Regions from separate parts of the Homo sapiens genome. Here region 2 is reported to be linked to region 1. The links are microRNA targets in miRTarBase. Many come from high-throughput screens and were not tested one by one. Region 1 holds a microRNA gene; the other region holds the end of a gene's coding sequence.
Evidence for each region. Region 1 holds the annotated microRNA hsa-miR-3973 (ACAAAGUACAGCAUUAGCCUUAG, at 2,430-2,452, opposite strand). A microRNA usually pairs through its seed, bases 2 to 8, with sites in the 3' UTR of a target mRNA and lowers its output. Matches are read on the target gene's strand: a 7mer-m8 pairs with bases 2 to 8, a 7mer-A1 pairs with bases 2 to 7 and ends in A, and an 8mer does both.

Region 1 (7,267 bases):
CAGCATACACACACTGTCTACACTATCTGCCTATTAGTCACTTAAGAACGGTCTCAGTTATCAGATCAACTGCCTCTGTCTTGCAATGTTTGTGTTTCAGTAACCAATTTTATTTAATAATGGCCCCAAAGCACAAGAAGAGTGATGCTGGTAATTCAGGTATGCCAAAGAGAAGCTGTAAAGTGCTTCCTTTAAGTGAAAAGGTGAAAGTTCTCGACTTAGTAAGGAAAGGAAAAAAAACTTATGCTGAGGTTGCTAAGATGTACAGTGAGAAAAAATTTTCTATCTGTGAAATTGTGAAGAAGGAAAAAGAATTTGTGCTAGTTTTGCTGTCACACCTCAAACTGCAAAAGTTATAGCCAGAGTGTGTGATAAGTGCTTAGTTAGGATGGAAAGGCATTAAATTTGTAGGTGGAACACATGGACAGAAATAGGTTTCAGTTGACAGCAATTTGGTACTATATTCGGTTTCAGGCATCCACTGGGGGTCTTGAAATGTACCCCCCGAAGATAAGGGGAGACTACTATAGAATATATTAATCAGAATTCCTAACCCCTAGAGACTTTAGAATATAGAAGAACAACAATCTAAACTGATTAAAATCAATAGTAAGAAATCACTTTCGAAGAAAATAGCAAACTTCTATGACCGTACCTGCCTTCTTCCCCACAGTCATGCAGTTAGACTATGAAGTCAAACAGTCATGATGCTGGTGACAGGCCGCCACTCAGACTTCCCTTAGACGTGATGCCTGCATTCGTGGAGCACCCACTATGTGTTAGAGCCTGCACTGGTGCTTTCTGTTTGTCATTTAATCCACACTGCATCGGGTAGCTACTTATACCCATTTTCCAGATGAGGAAATTGAGGTTCAAGATGACAAGCCAGGTAATGAGAACTAGCATGCAAATCAGGCTCTAACTGGCTCGCTAAATCTCTTTCCAACTGACCTCTGCTATGTCCCCAAAATAGCAGAATAGACCTGTTGATGAAGAATACATAAGTTACAATTGCTTATGGTTCTCTCTCCACCCTTTCAAAGGTTATAATATCAGTATTATTGAGGTAGCAGAACTTTTGATACACAAATCCCAAATTAATTATACATCTGAAGTGTTGAAGGACCACCCAAATCTAGACTACAGCAATGACCACTGTGTTCTCACTTCTAAAATTCCTAGCCAGTGACCTCCTCAACAATGACATTTTTCACTGATTGGGGCCATGGAACAAGATATTTATATTTAATAGATACCCGCTGCCTATCGCATGCTCTGTTTTGTAGTAAGCACTCATTCAACTAACTGATTCATTCATTTACCCAAAAAGAAAGCATTAGACACCTACTATACTCAAGGTTGCAGGGAATACAAGACTTGAGCACATCAAAAACCTACTATTGAGCAGGAGAGAAGAAGTGTGCACCTAAAGAGCTATAAAATTAAAATTATTTTATAATTATAAAAGTTGGAAGTCATAAATGCCACAGAAGAAAGTAAGAAATGGAATGTAAGAATTACTAAGAGGGGCTGGGTGCGGTGGCTCACGCCTGTAATTGCAGCACTTTGGGAGGCCAAGGCAGGCAGATCACCTGAGGTTAGGAGTTCGAGACCAGCCTGACCAACATGGAGAAACCCCACCTCTACTAAAAATACAAAATCAGCCAGGCTTGGTGGTGCATGCCTGCAATCCCAGCTACTCAGGAGGCTGAGGCAGGAGAATTGCTTGAATCTCGGAAGCAGAGGTTGCAGTGAGCCAAGATCGCACCATCACACTCCAGCCTAGGCAACAAGAGCGAAACTCCATTTCAAAAAAAAAAGAATTTCTAAGGAGGGGGAAATTTATTCCAGGGGAAGCATCATGGAATGCTGCATGGAATAATTTCCACCCAGGCTGCTTTGCAGGTTGGGTATGATGCAGACCTCTATTCCAAATGAAACGCTGAGCTAAATGGAGGCATGAAAGCAAATGGTCATGGAGAGGAGGATATAAGGGTGGGAAAAGCTTTAAGTGCCAGACTATAGAACTTGGACTTAACTTTATACACAAGGAGAAGCCAACATCATCCGTTTTTGAGCAAGGGAGTGACATGAGATGAGTAATGCTTCAGGTAGGTTAACCTGGCAGCCCTATGTAGAAAGAGATGGGAAAGAAAAGTAATAAGAAAATCCAATTTGGAAGCTATTGGAAATTTTTAGGCATCCATTTGGGAATCAAAGAGTTGGGTCTATCTTCACTAATTCCAAAATATATTCTTCTTCTAATAAGAAATATTATGAAGGGCTGGGCAAACTTAAAGTAAATAAATCTATTTAGTCTCTTGACTATTTGCTGAAGGCAGAGACAACTCAAGTCATCCATCTCTGGCTTTGGAAAACAGCAGATGGTATTTTTGGCAGCAGATCCACTGTCCTAGTTATATGTTTTGCTAAGGCTAATGCTGTACTTTGTTTGCATTTCTTCTGCCTGCACCATTGGAGCAAGGGGCAAGCAATCCTAAAATGTAACAAGCAATACAGAGAGCTACCCTGGGCTTCAAATTTTAACACTCAGATACTCCAGACACAAACACAATAAAGTAGGTTATACTCTTCAGTCCCTTATTCTGATAGTATTTTTTGAGGCCTGAGCACTTTGTCAATAATTCTGACCAGTTTCCTTCAAATCTTCAAAACCCCAAAGACAACAAGCAAGATAAAAGCAAGGAGTAGAATCCGATCATGAGTGGCTATGTATACAAAGCTGGAGAATTCCTGATACTGGTTACAGATTTCTGGAAAACTTCTTCGTAAGAAAAATAAAACAATCTTTTTGAAAACTGTGTTATTTGCAGACCTGCCTTTTTGATGTGCTCTTTTCCATAATATGAATAATGGAAAAAAAATGTTGCAGGAAATGAAGTGACTCATAGAATTTTCTGCATGGATTGAATTTCTGCAACTTTCGGTAAGCAAATCAGCAACAGAACGAATGGCATTTGCATTTCAGCAACACCCAATCCACTTATAAGGGTGCATGACAGTGATTATAGTGGAGGTGGGAAACCCATTCTTTCCTAAAGAGTCTAATTTTATCTTCCCAATTCCACTTTACATCTTTCAGCATAAACCTCTGGCTGGGTGGAAATCCATTTCTATTCGGATAGAAACTAATTTTTCAGGTATGTAAGTGAAAAATAATACAGGACTGTCTTCTCCAATGCTATTCTTAGCCTTTTGTAAATCCAGGTGACCAGGATAGACAACCAGATCCTGCAAAGGGAGTTCGTCAAAGCCCTGCCTATGATGACTGCTCCCAGAGCAGGGGGTCTAAACTATGGTTTGGAAGCATTTGATTTAATACTATTAAAAGGTCTGTCTCAGAGCAAAAAAGGGAGTTTCCTGGGAAGCACTGCCAAGATAAGGAAATTAACTCTTCAGGAAAGTTCCAGGAAGAGAAAGGTAGAAGTAGCCACAGATATGAGTTGGGGAAAGGATGGACATTTCAGCAGTATGAAATCCATTTCACTGGATACCAGGAAACCAGGATAAAAGTGAAGGTGTGTACTTACTTGGGCCTTGATCTCAGAGTGTTGGAGAAGAGAGAAAAAAATACAAAGGAGGGAGATATCTAGCCGTGTCTCCATGTGGAGACAAAGGAAGGTAAGAGAATGGTCAATTAAAGGGAATAAAAAGACGATATATATTATTTTCATAACCAAAGCTGTAGGAGACTGCTATAATCTCCACAGTTGTAATGCTGCTGTAAAAACATGTTTTTAAAAATAAGGCCTCAGTGGAAATCGAAATCCAAGCTGGAAAGCCTACAAGGAAAACAAGGCAGTACTTCTTCCCTGAACAGCACAGTTTCCTGTGAATACACAGTGAATAAGAGCGGATTCATTTCTTAAGAAGACAAAACAAAGACCTCAGTTCTCTTGAATATGCTTATTAATATTTAGCCAGTTAAACATGGGCCTTTCCCAGTTGCAACTTGCCAGCCCATAAATATTTACTAGGAATTGACACAGGCACATACAGAGACAGATAAAAAATATATATATTCATTCTTTCTCACCCCATAGGACTGGAACACCCAAAGAATTGCCTGTGTATCGACAAACCCAATCTTGCAATAGGAGCATTTAAAGTTACATTTCTTGACCCCAACAAACTCCTGGGAGAAAGGATCCCTCTCCCCAGATTCTAAATTCCTCCTTATATTTTCTCAAGCCTTGAAGAGGTCCCAACACCAAATAGGAATGCTACCGTCTTCCATGAACCCTGGAGTTGGGATGGAGGAGGCTTTCCTTGAGGTACAACTGCACTCTCATCAAAGCACAATCTGTATCTAATCCACATTTTCAGGCCTCAGGTGCACATTCAAATGGCTTTTTGAAAAAATATAGGATTTTACCCAATTTGTTTACCCATTCTGCCTGGTTTGCGTCCCCAAGTGTTCTTTACAAATGACAAATAATATGCCCTCCTCACATAAAAATGGCCCTAATGATAACTACCATTTATTGGGTATTCTCCATGTGCCGGAGCCTTTACAAGCATCTAATATTTATAACAACTTTAATCAAAAGACTCATTTGCTCCCTTCCACAAAGGAGAAGAGGCCACTCAGGTAGGCTGAACAGTCCACCAGAGGTCACGTGGAGTAAACTGAGTGTCTGGGATTTCTACAAGGGTTGGGTCTGCCTAAACTTTATTTCATCTTCACTCAATTCTTTTATCTGGCCACAAAAACATAGCCATGGAAAAATCCAACCATCTCACACCCGCTTCCCAGCACCTGAACTACAAGCTTACATTGCAGCCTGTCGGATTCTCCTGCCAGTTTCCCCTCAGAAAGAAAATTTACGAGGACTGTACTAAAATCACTGGTCTGCAGAGGCTGCAAAGTGACTTCTAGTTTTAAAAACTAACACGAGTCTCCCCCAGAGCTGATTATTAGGGCTGATGCAGCTCATAAAATGGACCATAAGACCATTTCTGTTCTAACAGTTTTGTGTTTTCCTTTTCCAGAGTGCTGGCTGAGGAGGACTGCTGAAGAAATGCCTTCCCAAGCCGCCGGTCCTTCCACACTCAGGCAAGCCTCAGGACTGCCTTCGCCTCTTCCCTCCCTCACCTTTATCAGATTCTCTCCAGTATGCACAAAGGAAACATGATTAACCAGCCTCCCTACCAGAGGGTGATCTCAGATGGGTCCCAGAAGCAGGTTCTAATTTACTTAAGTGATGAGTCTCTCCAGTTACTCAATCCTACAATACCGGCCAGTAGATATAATTGCAAAGCAGGTAGGCTAGACTCACCAACCTGCCAATTCAGTGCCAACAAACATTGCAAATTACAGGGTATAAATTTAGCAGGGTGGGTCTTGACACACATTCCTGCGAATTACACCTTCTCTCACTAGTAGAAAGTGCATTAATTACTTCGGGTGCATGTACGACTTCCACTTACTCGGAGCTTTCTGGAAAGCTATGAGCAACTCAGAGTAATCCATGAAGATTAAAGTATAAATAAATAATGACTGCTGGAGGAGGTGGGATTTTTCCAAAGCTCTTGGAATCAGAATTGTTAACTTTCTCCCCCACAGACTGAGAGAGTCACTGAGGCCCACTGTGTGGGGCTGGGGACAGAGTAACCCAGGTCAAGGCACAAATATGGGACCAGTAGGGCTGAACCTTGAGCAGGATGGTGGCAATGGAGCAGCCATTTCCTCCCTCTTGGGCTAAAAGTGCGACTTCCCCTGCAGGAAGGGGAATAGTCGACATCTGGAGCAAGGCAGATGCAGCCAGAAGTAAGGTCTGAATCCACGGGCTTGAGCCCATAAGGCAATTTCACCCTGTGTGATAACAGTGGAGCACTATTTATGCACCAGGCACTGAGCTAAATATCTACATCCTGCATTGTCATGGGATTGTTCACCACCACCATGTGATGGAGGAAGGAACCAGTGCTAAGTTTACAGAGGAGAAAACTAAGGCTCAGAGAGTTCAAAAACTTGCCCAAGGAAACATAATCAGACAGTCATGGAACCCAGGTCTGTATGACTCTAAAACCCACACTCTTAAACACTAGGAACTGCAGCAGCTATGGAGAGGCAGCGAGCCCAAGGTGCCCAGTCTGGGATTCGGGGAGGGTGAACCACCATCACACATCCATTCAGTAACTCCTACTTCGTATATGCCTGGCACACAGCTCAGCGCTTTCACTAAACCTGTTCCATTTAATTCTCAGAACAACTCTGGGAGGCATCTCATCCCCTTGACTGCACCCTTAAGGAAACCAAGGCTGGGAAAAGTCAAGAGCATCCAGCTAATGAGTAGAAAAGCCAACATTTTAATTCATCCATATGCTTCCTAAAGTCATGGCTTTTCCCCTAATCTGTGAATTAATTGTAACTCTGGTAACTATGGCGCCCACATAATTTAGGGAGAAAAGAAGGATTAAACAGAATCAAACTGCTGGGGCTAGAGGAAAACACTCAATGATGCTACCCACCATTGAGGTCTCTGAGCCCATATTTCCTGTGGGATGAGGAACGACTGGGCATCTATAGTGGGCAAGGGCGCAGTTTTTGTTTAAGTTGCTCAACATCTTAGATATGGTTTGGATTTGTGTCTCTGTCCAAATCTCATGTCGAATTGGAGGAGGGGCCTAGTAGGAGGTGACTGAATCATGGGGATGGATTTCCCCCTTGCTGCTCTCGTGATAGCAAGTTCTCATGAGATCTGATGCTTTAAACATGTGTGGCACTTCCCCCTTCGCGCTCTCTCTCTCCTGCCACCATGTGAAGAAGGTCCTTGCTTTCCCTTCACCTTCTGCCATGATTTTAAGTTGCCTGAGGCCTCCTAGTCATGCTTCTTGTTAAGCTTGCAGAATTGAGAGTAAATTAGCCCTTTTTTCTTCAGAAATTACCCAGTCTAAGGCAGTTCTTTATAGGAGTGTGAAAATGAACTAATACAGAAAATGGGTACCAGGAGTGGGGCACTGCTGTAAAGATACCAGAACATGTGAAAGTGACTTTCGAACTGGGTAATGGGCAGAGGTTGGAATAGTTTGGAGAGCTCAGAAGAAGGCAGGAAGATGTGGGAAAGTTTGGAACTTCCTAGAGACTTGTTGAATGTTCTTGACCAAAATGCTGATCGTGACATGGACAATGAAGTCCGGGCTGAGGTGGTCTCAGATGGAGATGAGGAACTTATCGGGAACGGGAGTAAAGGTCACTCTTGCTATGCTTTAGCAAAGAGACTGGTGGCATTCTGCCCCTGCC
Region 2 (7,000 bases), not on the chromosome of region 1:
GGATTATTATTGTTTTGTTTTTACATCAGGGCTCACTCAGCTTGGGTTATTTGTAGTATTCTACATGGCCTCAGTCTTAGAAGTGCTGTGAAGCAGAATCATTTAATTCACGGGCCAGTCTTCTACGGAGGTACCTAAAAGAAGCCTTTTGTTTCCTTGACTTCTTTATTCCTACAGCCTCAGTGGTAGGGAGGATCCACCTCACCTGTCCAGCTACTTCTGGCCTTTTTGGGGTCAAACACTACGGGTAAACTCACATGTCATCCTCACTCCTATGGATACACAGAGCTCTTGGAACCAAGCTCTTCTTAAAGTTCTTTACTTTCCTGTCCTTAGTTCAGAGCTTCGTGAAGCTGATCTCCAAGTGAGAAAATCAAGTTCTACTTCCTTTCTCTTCCTTCCTTTTGGCAAGGCCAAAGACTTCACTTATATCCAGCCAGCTACCTTATAACCCAGAAGCCTTTTGGTTTAGGAATGACAGCTAGATTGAAGTGGGGGCTATAGAGGAAGAAAACTGTGTTCACGTCACCACCTTCCCAGATTTCACCCCATCCTCCGTTCTGTTATGCATTTTTATTATTTTTATAAATCAAAAACCAATAATACTTTTGCCATCTATCAAGTGGTCTAATTGTATTTATGCTGAACTTCCTTATACTTGGTTTATATTATTGCAAGTAAGATAGACTTGGAAAAAATATTGACAACTTACGAAATCATCAATTCCTGGGAGACTGGATAGGGAGAGGATTCCTGATTAAGGAAATCTAGACTTAGAAGTCCTAATTTTACACTAGAATAACGCCTTTGTTTTCACTATTAATTTAGAAGAAAGGCTTAGCCTTGGAGGCCAACTTTAATTTTATTTCAAAAGTTTATGATTTTGTTAATTTCCTGTCTTGTTTCTTTTGCCAGGTGGTGTGGGGATGATGTGCTCATTGAGTGAACAAGGGAAGCAGCTAGCTATCCAGGTGTCTAATATCCTGGGGATGGATGTGTGTGGCATTGATCTGCTGATGAAAGATGACGGCTCCTTCTGCGTCTGTGAGGCCAATGCAAATGTAGGTTTCATCGCCTTTGATAAGGCTTGTAATCTAGATGTAGCTGGTATCATAGCAGACTATGCCGCCTCCCTTCTACCCTCTGGCCGGCTCACCCGGCGTATGTCCCTGCTCTCCGTGGTGTCCACTGCCAGTGAGACTAGTGAGCCGGAGCTGGGTCCCCCAGCCAGCACTGCTGTTGACAACATGAGTGCAAGTTCCAGCTCTGTTGACAGCGACCCTGAAAGCACGGAGCGAGAGCTGCTCACCAAGCTCCCAGGGGGCCTGTTCAACATGAACCAGCTGCTAGCCAATGAAATCAAACTACTGGTGGACTGACTCCACTGGTAATTAACCAACAAAACCCTTGTAAAACTTTCTTTCTTCTTTTCTATTTTTAAAACCAACTTGCAATGCTGTTCATGGAGGATGCTCAGGAAGATGAGAGAAAATTAGTAGGATTAGTTGGAGAGAGTGGGAGATAGATGAGACCTCTGCTAGTAAGATGTTACTTTCATTTACAAATCCTACAAATAGAGAGGCAGAATAGGTGGGGTATAGAAAAATGTCAGGCTCTCATAGTTACCCTTTTAAATTGCTAAAAAATGTGTATGCTCATAGGCCATGAGGAACAAATACTTTTTTTTTTTCATGGTCCCTTGCTTTTGTTTTTGTACAAAAAAAAATGGTTTTGCTACAAATATCCAAGTAGCATAACTTCACATTGTGTTGGAAGATTTGTCATCAGTGAGGAAAACATCTGCATAAATTACAGGAATTTTTGTATTATACAGCTCTGAAAATTCTGCCATTTCCTTATTAACTAGCAGCTTTAGTTTGTAGTTTATGAAATCTTGAGGGGCTCTTTTACTGGGATTTCTTATTTTTTTGTTTTTTCCCGCTTAATTTGGTGGGAGGTCAAATTGAATATAACCCAATAAAGGCTTCTTAATGACAAAATTGGCATGTTTGCATGATGAAATGGAAATGAACAGTATTGCAATGTCCGGTATACAAAATAACATTAATTCAATGTAGATAAAATTACACTAGTTTAAAATATGTGCATTCACTTGTATTTGTTAGTGTTTTAGTCTTTTTTGAAAGATGTGCTCTGTTAATGTTGCTTTTTTTTTTTTTTTTAATACATGCTAGTCTAACATTTCCTGCTCTATGCCTGCATCTTTAACAATGGCCAAAGTGAAGAAAATGCTACCTTTTTTGTTAACAAGACACTGACTTGAAACATGTACATTTAAAGCCTTTTATTTTTTCCCTTTTTGTTTTGGTAGTTGGGCATTTAAATAAGGACAAGGAAAAATATTTTTGGGGGCAAATCAAGAGCCTATGAGTTCTAAGTATAAAGCTGAAGTGATTTCGAATGCCAGCGTTATATATTTGCATTTTTCACATTTTACGAGGGAGTATATGTGTATGTGTGTGCACGCATGCATGTGTATGTGTTTTGCTTTTTGTTTCCATCAACTAATCAAAAAGGATAATTTAGAAAATGGAGCATGATGGGAAACAGAGTTTTTGACTTTAAAAAACAGATGAGTTGTTTTCATAAGTAGACTCCACTGGGGTAGAGGTATTCACCTTAAAACATAGGGTGAGTAGATGCTTTTTTAGGCCTTTTTGTGTATATGTACGTTGTTTGTTTTTTTCCTTTTGTTTCTAGCCTGTTCAGTGTACAGTTTATTCAAGGCTACATGCTTTTCTTTAATGCTTCTGGCTATGCATTTTCTCTTTTTACATATAGGATTTGGGATTGGGGGTGGGTTGGATGTTTTTGTTTGGGGACTTATTTAGTAGTATTGAGTCTCTTATAGCCCTACTCTTAAGCCTTCAATACTGTCCACTCTTTATATTCCTTTACTTGCAGAATTTATAAAAGCCCCCAAACTGCATATAATATGAGCCTTTAAAACATGGGTAAAACTAATCCCATTGATGGGTTTGGATGGTATGTTAAGAAATGGAGATGCTGCAGAGCCCAACGTAATTTTTTAAACAGCAAGTTTTCCATCTCCCTACGAATCCTCTGAAGCTTTTACCCAAGCCCTTTCTTGCCTCTCCAGTGCTATTTTCCTTCAGATGGACCTTAAACATAATTTCTTGGACACTACTAGAGAGACTTCGAGGCAATAATAAAAGATCAGTATTAACCAGCTATAACAGAGGTTTGATCATGCTTACTTGTACAGTTTTTCCCCCGTTTTAAAAAGGAATGTAATAAAATTTGTTTTTTCCATAGAATTAAATAATATTAAAATTGAGTGAAAGGTTGATTGTTGATGAATAGAATAGTACCTCTCATCTGTGCAGTGTCTCATTTCACCTCAGAGAAAAGGATACATAAGAGGAGTTTGTAATTTATCTTAGGATATTCTAATTGCATTTAAAAGAACTTATCTTGCGCAGGGTAAATGGGGGACTCACATACATATATTAATACCTCTGACTCATTAACAGAAAGAAATACTTGGTACTTCTTTCGCTGAATGACCATACTGTGGAGGATGCATACTATTTGGTATAGAGAAATAAATGAGGAAGAAAGAACTGCTTAATTAAATTATCATTCATATGTTCATATAGAGACCATCTGGTTGCCATGTGTATTATGACACATACACTTTGAATAGTTACATATCACAAGTATGTAGTTCATGTTTGTGTTGGTGGGGTAAGGCATCAGGAAAAATGTAGTTAGTCTTTTCTTAACTTATACCAAATTAACCAACTATATTATAGGAAATATGTGAAATTAGTTCATTAGCTTTATTCACTATTATGCATTCACATGATATTAAAACGTACACTCACATGTTAGAATGAAAAGAGCAGTAGTTATCTTAGATTTTAAAAACATGGATATCTTCTTGAATTCCTTCAAGATTGAGGTAGAGAATAAGAGCAAATCATTCTGGAAGTACCTTAAGGAAACAAACAGCAGCAGATATTTAGGTTAAACTTATTTTCATAATTGTTTAATAACTTTTGTATAATCTTCATTGCTATTATGAGAGAGAATGTATATATCAAATATGTGTAATGATAAAATCTGAATTGTAAAATTTTTGTATATTGTTAAAATTGTAATTCTAAATTGTATTTCAAAAATGATTATTTCTGATATTGTTTTTATGTCACCCATGATGAAAACTGGACTTTATATATCTAAACATACAAGTATGAACTATTCTATTTAAAATTTTTAATAGTTTTTTTCTTTTTTGGTGCCTATAATTGATTGGTCATTTCTGCTGGCTTTTCTCCAATGAACATTGAAATCTTCCTGTATATGTTACCAATAAGAAAACTACCCTGGAACAGTAGAAAAACCCAACAAGAGACTTGGCATTCATCAAGCACATTATCAGACTTTGAGAACATATTGAAGGCATTGACTTTGAAAATCATCTCTTTTTCTCAAGAAGAAAGCAATGGAGAAGCAAATTTGTTTCATTCAGTGAATCCCCAGTTTGGGGCTTGTGGGGCTTAGAGACATTGTGAAATCAAATCTTGTGTTATACTTTTCTCCTGGCTCACTTTTTTTGAGAAGGTTTATGGGCTATTTGGCTGGTGAGACACGATCCCCTCCTAAGAAAATGTAGGTGCTCAGACAGGTAACCACTGCTGCTACTGTTTTTATTTGTTTGTTTGTTCAATTTTATTTAAGATTTGTTTTTGTTGTACTAGGATTTTAAAAAATGTAATATATTGCAGGATTTATAACCAGGTTCACTGACTGCTTGCTTGCTTTCTTTTTTTTTTTTTTTTTTTTTTTTTCTTCTTAAAAAAACAAAACAAAGTTTCATTTAAAATACATTTAGGCACCTTTGGAGCTTGGATTTTGGAATGTTTCAGTAGTGGACAGAAATCTGCTGTTGGAATCTTCTAGTCTTCCAGGTTTAATTTGAAATGTTTTTAGTTTTGTTTTGGATTTTTGTGTGGTATTTTATTTCCTTTATACCAATGCCATTTTGCCATGCTGTTTTGGGGTGGCTGCCTAACTCTAGTGAAAATTCTTTCTATATTAATGAAAGTTTGGCCTTTGAAGATCCTTAATGTTTTGCATTTTTTACATTGTTTTTAAAGAAATATTCTAACTGCTTGCACTGTTACTGTTCTTTACCAGCCTTTTCAGGAGCCAAAAAAACAAATACAAACAAACAAAAAAATACCCAGAGAAAAAACTTTCCTTCTTCCCCCTTCCTGATGATGAGTGAGAAGTATTGAGAACTTTCGGGGTCAGTGCCCTTCTAAACTCCCCTTCCCCCAATAATGCAGCTGTATAATGAATGGTAAATGCACCGGTTTGGATTCAGGCACAGCCCCAGTCTGCCTACAGGTAATTTAACTCTTTCTCCTTTCTTTCCATCACTAGGCTAACTTTCTTTTTTTAAAACTTCCTTTCTTTACGTACTTTAAAAAGTAACCATGGGTTTGTCATAATTCTCACTTAAAAATAATGCATAAATGTATCTAGCAAATAATATGATTAAAGAAGAGCTTTTGGGGGTAAAGTTTGACTTGGTTATGATATACTCAAGACTTGGGAATTTTGTTTAGCCATTTAGATGACTCCATTTCTTGCATATATGTCTATAATTAAGTATTTCAGAGTGTGAATTTTTTGGCTTTGTTTTTGTTTTGGGTTTGTTTGTTTCTTCCATTGTGCTACTCTGGCTTAAGCTTTTTCAGGGGTTGGTGTTCCGAATACACAGTGAGCTCACAGTATAAAGACATCAATTAGGAGTTGACAGGTATGGAAAACTAGAGTTTTGAAAGGTAAAATTAGGCTCTAGGTTATATATATGGTAAAAACTCAACATAGCATTCATTTTACCTTAGTGCTTCTCTCTGTGACTTTATAAAAGTGAAAGGGAATAGTAAGACGAAGATAATACAAAAAAATTTAGTTCTTTTAGGAGCAATGTGATTTCAGAACTAATCGTTTTAGCATTTCTAAGATACTAGTTCTAACAAGGAGATGTGAGCAGTTTGAGATTATCAGAAAATCATGGTTTAAACCTTCAAAAATTACAGGTTTGAACAGATAGGAGGACATTTCTGAAGCACAAGATGGCTAAGCACATTAACCAAGGACATAAAATGTCAGGGATAGGACTACAACTCGTCCATTTTAATAGCCTTTCTGTTAGGTAATAAACTAAACTATCCTCTCCTCCGTCTTTACCCCAGTCTACCTACCCATTCTTCCTTTCTCCTATACTTCCTAAAGTTTTAGTTCTGAGCTTTTATTATTTTGGGATATTGTCATCTTTCTAATAGGTAGAATTTTAGTGAAAGTAATCAGGACCTTTTCAAGATAGACTTCTGCATAATTTCATCCTGTGGCTTTGGACGTACTATCCAAAGAGGCTGTACATCCAGCAAGTCACTAGTTAGTGAATAGGAATTCTTGGCGTGTAATGCCATTTCTTGTAGCTGAAGGAAGACATGTGATAAGTGATTAACCTGTTCTGTGCTTCAGTTGACTCTTATAAGGACAGTCATTCCCTTTAAGCATCTTAAGACAAAAATATTTATCTGTTGAATTGGAATTTACTAACAGAGGGAATTTGAATTGGAATTTACTTCCAGCTGCACTCATGCAAGAATTTGTGATGTATACTAAAAAATAAAAAAAGGCTCATTCAGGAGAGCCTTGTACTCAGCAAGAGTGGCTAACATTAGAGCATACAGACTATGTGATTGTATAAGGCATGGAGAGTTAAACAACCTCCAGTCAGCTGCCTGTTTGAATACCACTGACTTGTTAAGAATGATCTTGCTTTTAGATTTTACCATATTCAAACTTATTAGGTGAGCCTTATATAGCATATATACCTGGCTGCTATTGTGGGGTTTGGGAACATGAGGGGTGGGGTGAACTGTTGTTGTTTTAGGTTTCAGTCAGACAGACATCCCTGTGCCTCAGTTCCCAGAAG

Region 2: the mRNA of RIMKLB is a reported target of hsa-miR-3973. Seed matches in the 3' UTR shown: 7mer-A1 at 3,678-3,684, 7mer-A1 at 4,427-4,433 and 7mer-A1 at 4,453-4,459.

What each region holds. Positions count from the first base shown.
Region 1 is chr11:36,005,366-36,012,632 of GRCh38, reverse strand. It overlaps MIR3973 (microRNA 3973), which reads right to left and starts at 2,535; the gene lies at 2,429-2,535. The region is part of intron 1 of LDLRAD3 (low density lipoprotein receptor class A domain containing 3); the gene reads right to left.
Region 2 is chr12:8,772,406-8,779,405 of GRCh38, forward strand. It overlaps RIMKLB (ribosomal modification protein rimK like family member B), which reads left to right. Exons shown (of 6, transcript NM_001297776.2): 6 at 916-4,786. The coding sequence ends at 1,379. It overlaps A2ML1-AS1 (A2ML1 antisense RNA 1), which reads right to left. Exons shown (of 2, transcript NR_046715.1): 2 at 3,806-3,979. Among named protein-coding and RNA genes, the nearest start is that of LINC02972, 12 kb to the right of the region's middle. RefSeq lists enhancers at 1-203, 204-703.